Homo sapiens: one gene and its partner. The protein of the gene in region 1 purifies or fractionates together with the protein of each later gene. This does not show direct contact. Each region holds a gene or a part of one and is shown in the gene's direction. Other genes may lie near its edges. The genes, in order: PIPOX and CSN2.

Region 1 (3,825 bases):
TCTCCAACCCTTGACCTTTCAAACACTCATGGGAAAGAAAGCCAATAATCTGTGATGCAATGGGAACTTTAACCATCCCACCTCCCTCCCACCTCCTCTGTGACTCTTAACTGAACTTCCTACAAACCCTGGCTCTACCTGATAGGGTGGTGGTTATTTTAATGGCCAGGAACCAAGAGGTTAGTGTTCTGTTGCAAAAATACCATTAACTTAAGAACAAAGTGAAATCCATTATGCAAATCAGCCAGGGCAGCTAATTACAGATTTATTCAGAGGCAGCTAATGCACCCAGCACCCAAATAAAGGAGCATGTCTTGCTGGTGGGTGGCCCGGCAGAGGGACCCCTCTCTGTCAGTTGTCTGTGAATACTGCTGAGCATCTTTTGCTAAAAGAATCGCCCTGGGCCTCAGAGGGCACACTTCCTCCTAGCACACAATGAGGCAACTAAGAGACGTTAGAGTGTCTGGAATCTTTCCGAGGGAGACGATTCTGGAGTGAGACAGGCTTAGGTTTGACATTGTGCTCTATTCCACACCAGTTGTGTGATCTTGGAAAAGTTTCTTGACTTCTCTGTGCCTCACTTTTTACGATAGGGCTCTGAGAGGATTAAATGAGACTTTTGTGAAATACTTGGCCCAATGTCTAGCACCTTTCAATAAGGGGCAGTCCCTTATTGACCCATTCTGGGTCAGCTGCATTCTGTTCCATTGAGCAACAGTGGGAGGAAAGGCAGGAGGAGACAGATGGGTGCAACAACCACAGATACCAAGGGGAGTGGCAGCAGGAAAGAGGGAGAGGGATCCTTGGGTAGGAGACTCTCAGAAGCGCACAATCCTCCTCTTTGCCAGGAGGACAGGAATTTGGACGGGCTTTGGAACTGGACCTGGCTCTAAATCTCAGCTCTGACACGCTCAGCTGTGTGGTTTGGAACGAGCTGTTGAACCTCTGGTGAGACTCAGCTTTTTTCATCTGTGAAGTAGGGATACTAATACCTGTGTCATGGTGCTGGGGTGAGGATAAGTAGGTAATGGGCTTAGAACAGCACCTGGAAAACCATCTTCCTCCTCCTCCTCACCATATATGTAGTGTTTACAATAAGAAACTAGGCTGGGCATGGTGGCTCACGCCTGTAATCCCAGCACTTTGGGAGGCTGAGGCAGGTGGATCACCTGAAGTCAGGAGTTAAAAACCAGCCTGGCCAACATGGTGAAACCCCGCCTCTACTAAAAATACAAAAAGTAGCCAGGCATGGTGGTGGACACCTGTAATCACAGCTATTAGGGAGGCTGATGAGGCAGAAGAATCGCTTGAACCTGGGAGGCAGAGGTTGCAGTGAGCCGAGATCACGCCACTGCACTGCACTCCAGCCTGGGTGACAGAGTGAGACTCCGTCTCAAAGAAAAAAAAAGAAAAGAAAAGAAAAGAAAAAACTAAGAGTTGCCTAAGTACCTGACACCTATAACTCATTCCATTCTCCTCACAATCTTATGAGAGGGTTGCTGCCGGGTAGTCAGGGTCTTATCCCATTAATGCAAATCACAGAATTACTATACTCTTAAGTCTAGAATAGAGGTTGGCCAGCTTTATCTATAAATGGCCACGTAGTAAGTATCTTAGCCTTTGCAGGCAACGTGGTCTCTGTTACAATTATTCAACTCTGCCATTGTAGTGTGAAAGCAAGATGTAAATAAATGAGCCTGGATGTATTCTAATACAACTTTATTTATAGACACTGAAATTTGAACTTCATATAATTTTCATGTGTCACTCAACATTATTCTTCTTTGGATTAAAAAAAATCAACAATTAAAAAATTTAAAAACCATCTTGGCTCATGGACCAGACCAAAACAAGCAGAAGGCCAGATTTGGTCCCTGAGTGGTAGCTTGCTGGCCCTGGGTGTGGAAGATACCTCAAACTGGTTAACTTGTCCATTTCTGTCTCCAAATAAGTTCATGCCTAAATCATCCCAGGTCAAAAGACTGCTACTATGCATTTAAAGACAGGGAAATATCACAGCCCTTCTTAAAAGACCATTCTGATGTCTCATAGCCCCAGTTACGAAAAATGAAAAGTAATGTGAATATGCTTTAAAAACCTCTAGAGTGCTAAGTATTCTTACTACTATTGTTATTATTCTATTATTATAAGTCCTTTCTTATGGCTAACCTAATGTACTCAGGCACACCAATTTATTTGGTTCTTTTACTTAGCAGGGACACAGAGCAGATACTTCCCATTCTCAGAATGGTATCTGAATACAGCTCTACTACCTTTGGGCTAAAAGCCATTCTAATTCCTTTAGCTTTTACTGATTCTTATTTTCTAAATGATTCATCATCTGTGTGGTTCTTACTTTTCCCCAGGTTTTTCTAGAAGAACCAGCACAATACCATAATACTACTGATAGATATGAGCATACTTAATGCTATTTGATGATGATTAAAAAAAAACCTTTAGGAGTTGGCAGTTCAGGTGGTTGTCCAGTGCTTTTCATTCTGTTTAGCTGCTTCCTGTGACAGCGGCATACTAAACATGGGTGGGTTTGGGACATTTGCATATATTCTGGGAACAGACAATGACACATGTGTCAGATCACAAGGTCTGAATCTTTTGTGATGTGTACAGCCAGGATGCTGATTCCAACAGCAAAACCCAGCTCCCTGGCCCATCTCTTTCCTGCCCCGCCTTCTCCCTTTGAGTCCTACTGTCTAGCTCCTGACCTGGGCTGCCCCTGCTTAGCTGACAGTATCAGACAAGATCACAGCCGTAGGCAGTACAGCTGCTGGCAGAACCTGGTGGCCCCCTCTGCAGCTGCTGTTTCTTGTGTCTGCGAAGTGTCTGGCTTGTCAGCCACATCCCCTCCCTGGAGCAGTCTTTGTTAACCAATTCCACCTCGGCCCACTGAACGGAAGATGAAATGCCTAGAGCTCCTCCAAAACCAACAAAGGCAGCAGCCATTACCAAGTCCCCATTCGAATCCCTTCCCCAAGGTGACTCAGAGCTGGCTTGCTGGGCATTTTTAACCCACAGAGGGGAGAGCTGAAGCTTGGGATGGGAGATGGCAGGTGCAGGGAGAGCCGTCTCCTCTCCCAATTCCTCCCCACTCCATCCTACACCCTGTCCTGCTACAGTAACTGGTGGAAATCCCTGATCACCAACTCCCTACATCATATCTGAGGCATTAGTCGGGCTATAGCAGAGTCAACAAGGCCCTCGGGAGGAATCTTCAATTACCTCTTCCTAGTGCTGGATCAAGCTAGGGTCAGGAGGAAGGAATAGTTCATACTAAATGCTCTTGACTCAGCTGATGGGCATTCTGGGAGGTGGGAGCTGCACTCTTTTCTAGGGTTCCCTGGCAACCCATGTGCTGGCTTTCAGTCCTTCTTTGTAGCTAGTCCTGACCATTCATTTCCCGGTCATTTTTTATCCTGCTGATGCCCTTGTCTCCTCTCACCCTTCTCCTTCCCAAACTTACAGCCCAGGTCTAAGCAGAAAAAAAGAAGACAGGGAGGCCACGAACACAGGGGTGAGAAATTGATGCAGAATGAGCAGTCTATTTGTTGGTATCTAGAAAAAGCCATTAAGAAAATAAGCACTTAAATGATTTTCAATCTGCCCATGGAAGCCATCCATCTTCATACTGGGAGGAAAAGGCCCATTCTCCAATCCCGGTTTTGACTGACTGGTTTCCAATTCTCTAAGCATTTCCCATAGGAGCCTCTCACCTATCTCCCATAATCACAGGCCTTTGCATTTCCAGGCAGTGTTTTACATTTATTTCCGATTTGCTCATAATGGTCAAAAATCTCTCTCCAATCCAAG
Region 2 (4,456 bases), on another chromosome or scaffold:
ATTTCCCTACTTGAGATCATCATAATGTCTGTCTTAGGCTACTGCAATAACATAACATAACAACTTCCTTTACTAGGTTACCTGATTTGTTGTCATAAAGTCATGAAATCCAAGAAATTTTACAATCCATTTTTCTTTCAAATCTCTAATATATTTGCTTCCACTGAATTATGTCACAGTGCATGCCTGACATTCACAGTCATCCATGATCTGATTCTATCAAACCTCTGCAATTGTAACTTGCAATGTATGCCCTCTGAATATCCTCAAACTGGTATGTTGCTCTTTCAGTTCCTGTGTTTTCTTCAGCCAAAATATCTATCCCCATTTAATCATCTCGCAAAATTCTACTCATTCTCTAAGGCTCAACTAAAAGAGCAGTTCCTTAATGGCAAGCTCCCCTGCCACACACAGCACAGAGGCCCTACTTTTCCAATTCAGGCATAATTAAATTGTACATATTTCAACCAAATGCTACATTGATAGATAAATTTTATAAAAAATTATCAGAAGGTTAAAACATGGGCTCTGAGACTCACATGTGATCAAACAGAATCACATGTAGTCAGACAGATCTGAGTCCAACTGGTATCTTTGCCATTAACAATATGGTTTTGAGCAAGTTACTTAACCTTTTGGCATCTCTGTTTTCTCAACCTAAATATGAAGAGGAGAGCTACCTCATGATGTTCTTGTGCAGATTATACAAGATAATATCTTTGCTTAGTGCTTGGCAAAGGGTTAGAACTAAGCAAAAAAACCCATCATTAATATTATCATAATTATGCTTGACCTGAAAAGAGATAATCAATATTAAAAGGTAAATAAAACTCCGTGATACTTTGCAAAATTTTTATTACAGATTTACTGAAGATTTTGCCTATACCAGCCACCCAGATTCCCTCTTCAAGTTATTCCATTACAGAGGAAAGTTTATTTATCTTGTGTACAAAATATTTGTTTTAACTAAATTATTTTTTTTTCCAAATCAAGTGGCCCTGGGAGAAACAGTTTGCCTCACATAACTAAGCTACCATCATGGACTTGTTATCTTGTCAGTTTCTTCATTTCAGCATAAAGCACTAACAACTGCTTAGGTTCACATGAAACTGTGGCCTTTGTGAAGCCCTGTGTATATCTAGCGTTCACATACAATTTTCCCACAACTGAAATCTCAAGGCCCCACTAGGCCCTAAAGAGACCTAATTATGTCCATAATAACTTGGGGACAGGGCCAGAGTATCACTGTCCTCCAGTCATTGTCTTTTGTTATTGAATAATTGCATTTCCTGGACAGGTTTCTTTTATCAACTTGTGAATTGTTCCCTTGTTATAATGATGCCCAGAATTTCTGGGGATATGTAATAGGCAGAAATCATTTTCTAATCATGTGGACTTCTTGGAATTAAAGCTCGCTATTGATCTTATTTCAAATCACAAAATTAGTGTGTCATTAAATATAGTATATAAACAGTCACAGAAGCTGATGGACCATCATCCATCCAGCACTACCTTCACTTCTCTTCAATCTTGGAAAAACGGTAAGAATTTTAGATACAAATTTGTTGTATCTTCTCCTAACCATGTATTTCAAAGTAGCTTGAGCTATAGAAGGAACGTAGTTACTTAAAATATAGTGTTTGAAATAAAAGTATTTAAGGTAGTACTGAGATTATTTTTAACACTTAGGCTAAAAAAGATAGAAGTGCCCAGAAGAATTTGGTAATGACATATAGCCTTCATGAGTTTAAGAAAATATAATAGCTAATTTTATGCATATATATATATATATATATATATATATATATATATAGTATGAGGCTAGTTCATAGTTAATATTAAAAGGAGATTCATTTTTTTAATTAATCTTCCAATTTGATTTAGCATATCACAGTTATAAAAAGAATTATACTTCAATTATAGTATGGGTAGATAAATAATTACTGGAAAAGCTTTGTCCAGCAGGTAGTTTACAGCAGTAGCATACTGAGTTGAGAAATGGAGGGAATGGTATGGGGGCATTTACTACTTTAAATGTTTATAAACAATGTTTTTAGAAGAGTTTACTCATCAAACTTGTCTAGAGCCTCAAACTTCCCAGTTTATTATCTAGTTTGTAATATTTCAAAACAATATTAAAATGAGACAGAAATACAGAATTAAGTAAAAAAGAAACAATGTGGTTTACTTTGTAAGAAAATTCTTAATGGGGTAGAAAAGACTTGGAAACCATAAACAAAGATAATAGATGATATAAAAGAAAAAGTAGCTTAGAGTGTACCAGTTGATAATGAAGCTCTGGCTTAAAAATTAGTATATAAAAGTATACCAGTATGTAGTATATTTATAGTATAGAAATGAGTATAAAAACTAGTATAATTAGTATTAGTATATATTAGTATATTAGTATATAAATTAGCATTGTAATTATACATTCGTATATAAAATTATTATATATATTAGTAGATTAGTAATAAAACTAGTAAAGTTTATATTACTTATAAAATATAGAAAATGCTGTGGGATCTTCCCTATGTGTAATTATATATAATAGAGTGTTATATTCTGTTTCTGAACCCTGACATAAAAATTTGGGAACTTATAGTGGTCTTAGGCAAAGTAAAATTAATAAAAACTTAATTAACATTCATAAAAAATCTAGAAAAAATATTTGTTTTCTGTAATAGAATTATGTTCAACCTTCAAATATTGAAAAGAACATCTCTCAAATAAATTAAAGACTTTTTTGATGAAGTATTTTAGTTCAAAAATTTAGTTCAAAAATTGAGTTTCAATATCTGAGAATGAAGATTTGAGTGGTGAGTAATATTGTGGCACAAACATTATTTTGAAATAAATTACAAAAAAATGTAAGAACACATAACAAGGAGATGATTTAGTATATTTTGGTCAAAAATATTAACATATATTTCACAAGAAGAGGTAGTCCCAAGCTTAGCAGTGGGCAAGAGGCTCTGACCCCTTGGCGGATCATCAAGAGAATCGTGTGTACATTTCAATAAAGAGAAGAGAAGAAGCCTAGTGTACAATATCTAAAGTCATGTGGCATAAAGGAGAACAGACATTATTAGCTATGTGGGGAAGATGAATATAAACGGAGAAGAAACAAACTCAATAGTCCAATAAAGTCTCTGGATAGTGACACAAATAAGGAAAGTGTTAAAATGAAAACCTCAGTCTTATTGGAAATGAGGAGAAATAAACTAAAATAGTCATGGTAACCGTTTAGTGAAAAGAAAAAAGGTAAAAATAAAATGTGACTTTTTTGTACACATTTTCTTGATCAGTCTCTTCCAGTAGAACTGAGGCTCCATGAGGGAGTAATATCAGGACTGTAATATTTTGTTCATTGCTGCGGTCCTGGTCCCTAGACAGTGTCTGGCAAGAACAGATTCTAAAGAAATATTTTTAAGTTAATGAATAAATCTTTTTTTAAATTTTATTTGTCTTTTGAAATTATTATTATTATACTTTAAGTTTTAGGGTACATGTGCACAAAGTGCAGGTTTGTTACATATGTATACATGTGCCATGTTGGTGTGCTGCACCCATTAACACGTCATTTAACATTAGGTATATCTCCTAATGCTATCCCTCCCCACTCCCCCCACCCCACAACAGCCCCGGTGTGTGATGTTCCCCTTCCTGTGTCCGTGTGTTCCCATTGTTCAATTCCCACCTATGAGTGAGAACATGTGGTGTTTGGTTTTTTTGTCCTTGCGATAGTTTGCTGAGAATGATGGTTTCCAGCTTCATCCATGTCCCTACAAAGGACATGAACTCATCATTTTTTATGGCTGCATAGTATTCCATGGTGTATATGTGCCACATTTTCTTAATCCAGTCTATCATTGTTGGACATTTGGGTTGGTTCCAAGTCTTTGCTATTGTGAATAGTGCCGCAATAAACATACATGTGTATGTGTCTTTATAGCAGCATGATTTATAATCCTTTGGGTATATACCCAGTAATGGGATGGCTAGGTCAAATGGTATTCCTAGCTCTAGATCCCTGAGGAATCGCCACACTGACTTCCACAATGGTTGAACTAGTTTACAGTCCCACCAACAGTGTAAAAGTGTTCCTATTTCTCCACATCCTCTCCAGCACCTGTTGTTTCCTGACTTTTTAATGATCGCCATTCTAACTGGTGTGAGATGGTATCTCATTGTGGTTTTGATTTGCATTTCTCTGATGGCCAGTGATGATGAGCATTTTTTCATGTGATTTTTGGCTGTATAAATGTCTTCTTTTGAGAAGTGTTTGTTCATATCCTTTGCCCACTTTTTGATGGGGTTGTTTGTTTTTTTCTTGTAAATTTGTTGGAGTTCATTGTAGATTCTGGATATTAGCCCTTTGTCAGATGAGTAGATTGCAAAAATTTTCTCTCATTCTGCAGGTTGCCTGTTCACTCTGATGGTAGTTTCTTTTGCT

What was found.
Region 2: the proteins of PIPOX (region 1) and CSN2 purify together in Homo sapiens (affinity purification with mass spectrometry; one large-scale study listed by BioGRID and IntAct). This does not show direct contact.

What each region holds. Positions count from the first base shown.
Region 1 is NC_000017.11:29,045,900-29,049,724, forward strand, and holds part of PIPOX (peroxisomal sarcosine oxidase), read left to right. Parts: intron 1-3,825. UniProt on the Homo sapiens protein: Metabolizes sarcosine and L-pipecolic acid.
Region 2 is NC_000004.12:69,962,766-69,967,221, reverse strand, and holds the start of CSN2 (beta-casein isoform 1 precursor), read left to right. Parts: upstream 1-1,493; 5' UTR 1,494-1,541; intron 1,542-4,456. UniProt on the Homo sapiens protein: Important role in determination of the surface properties of the casein micelles.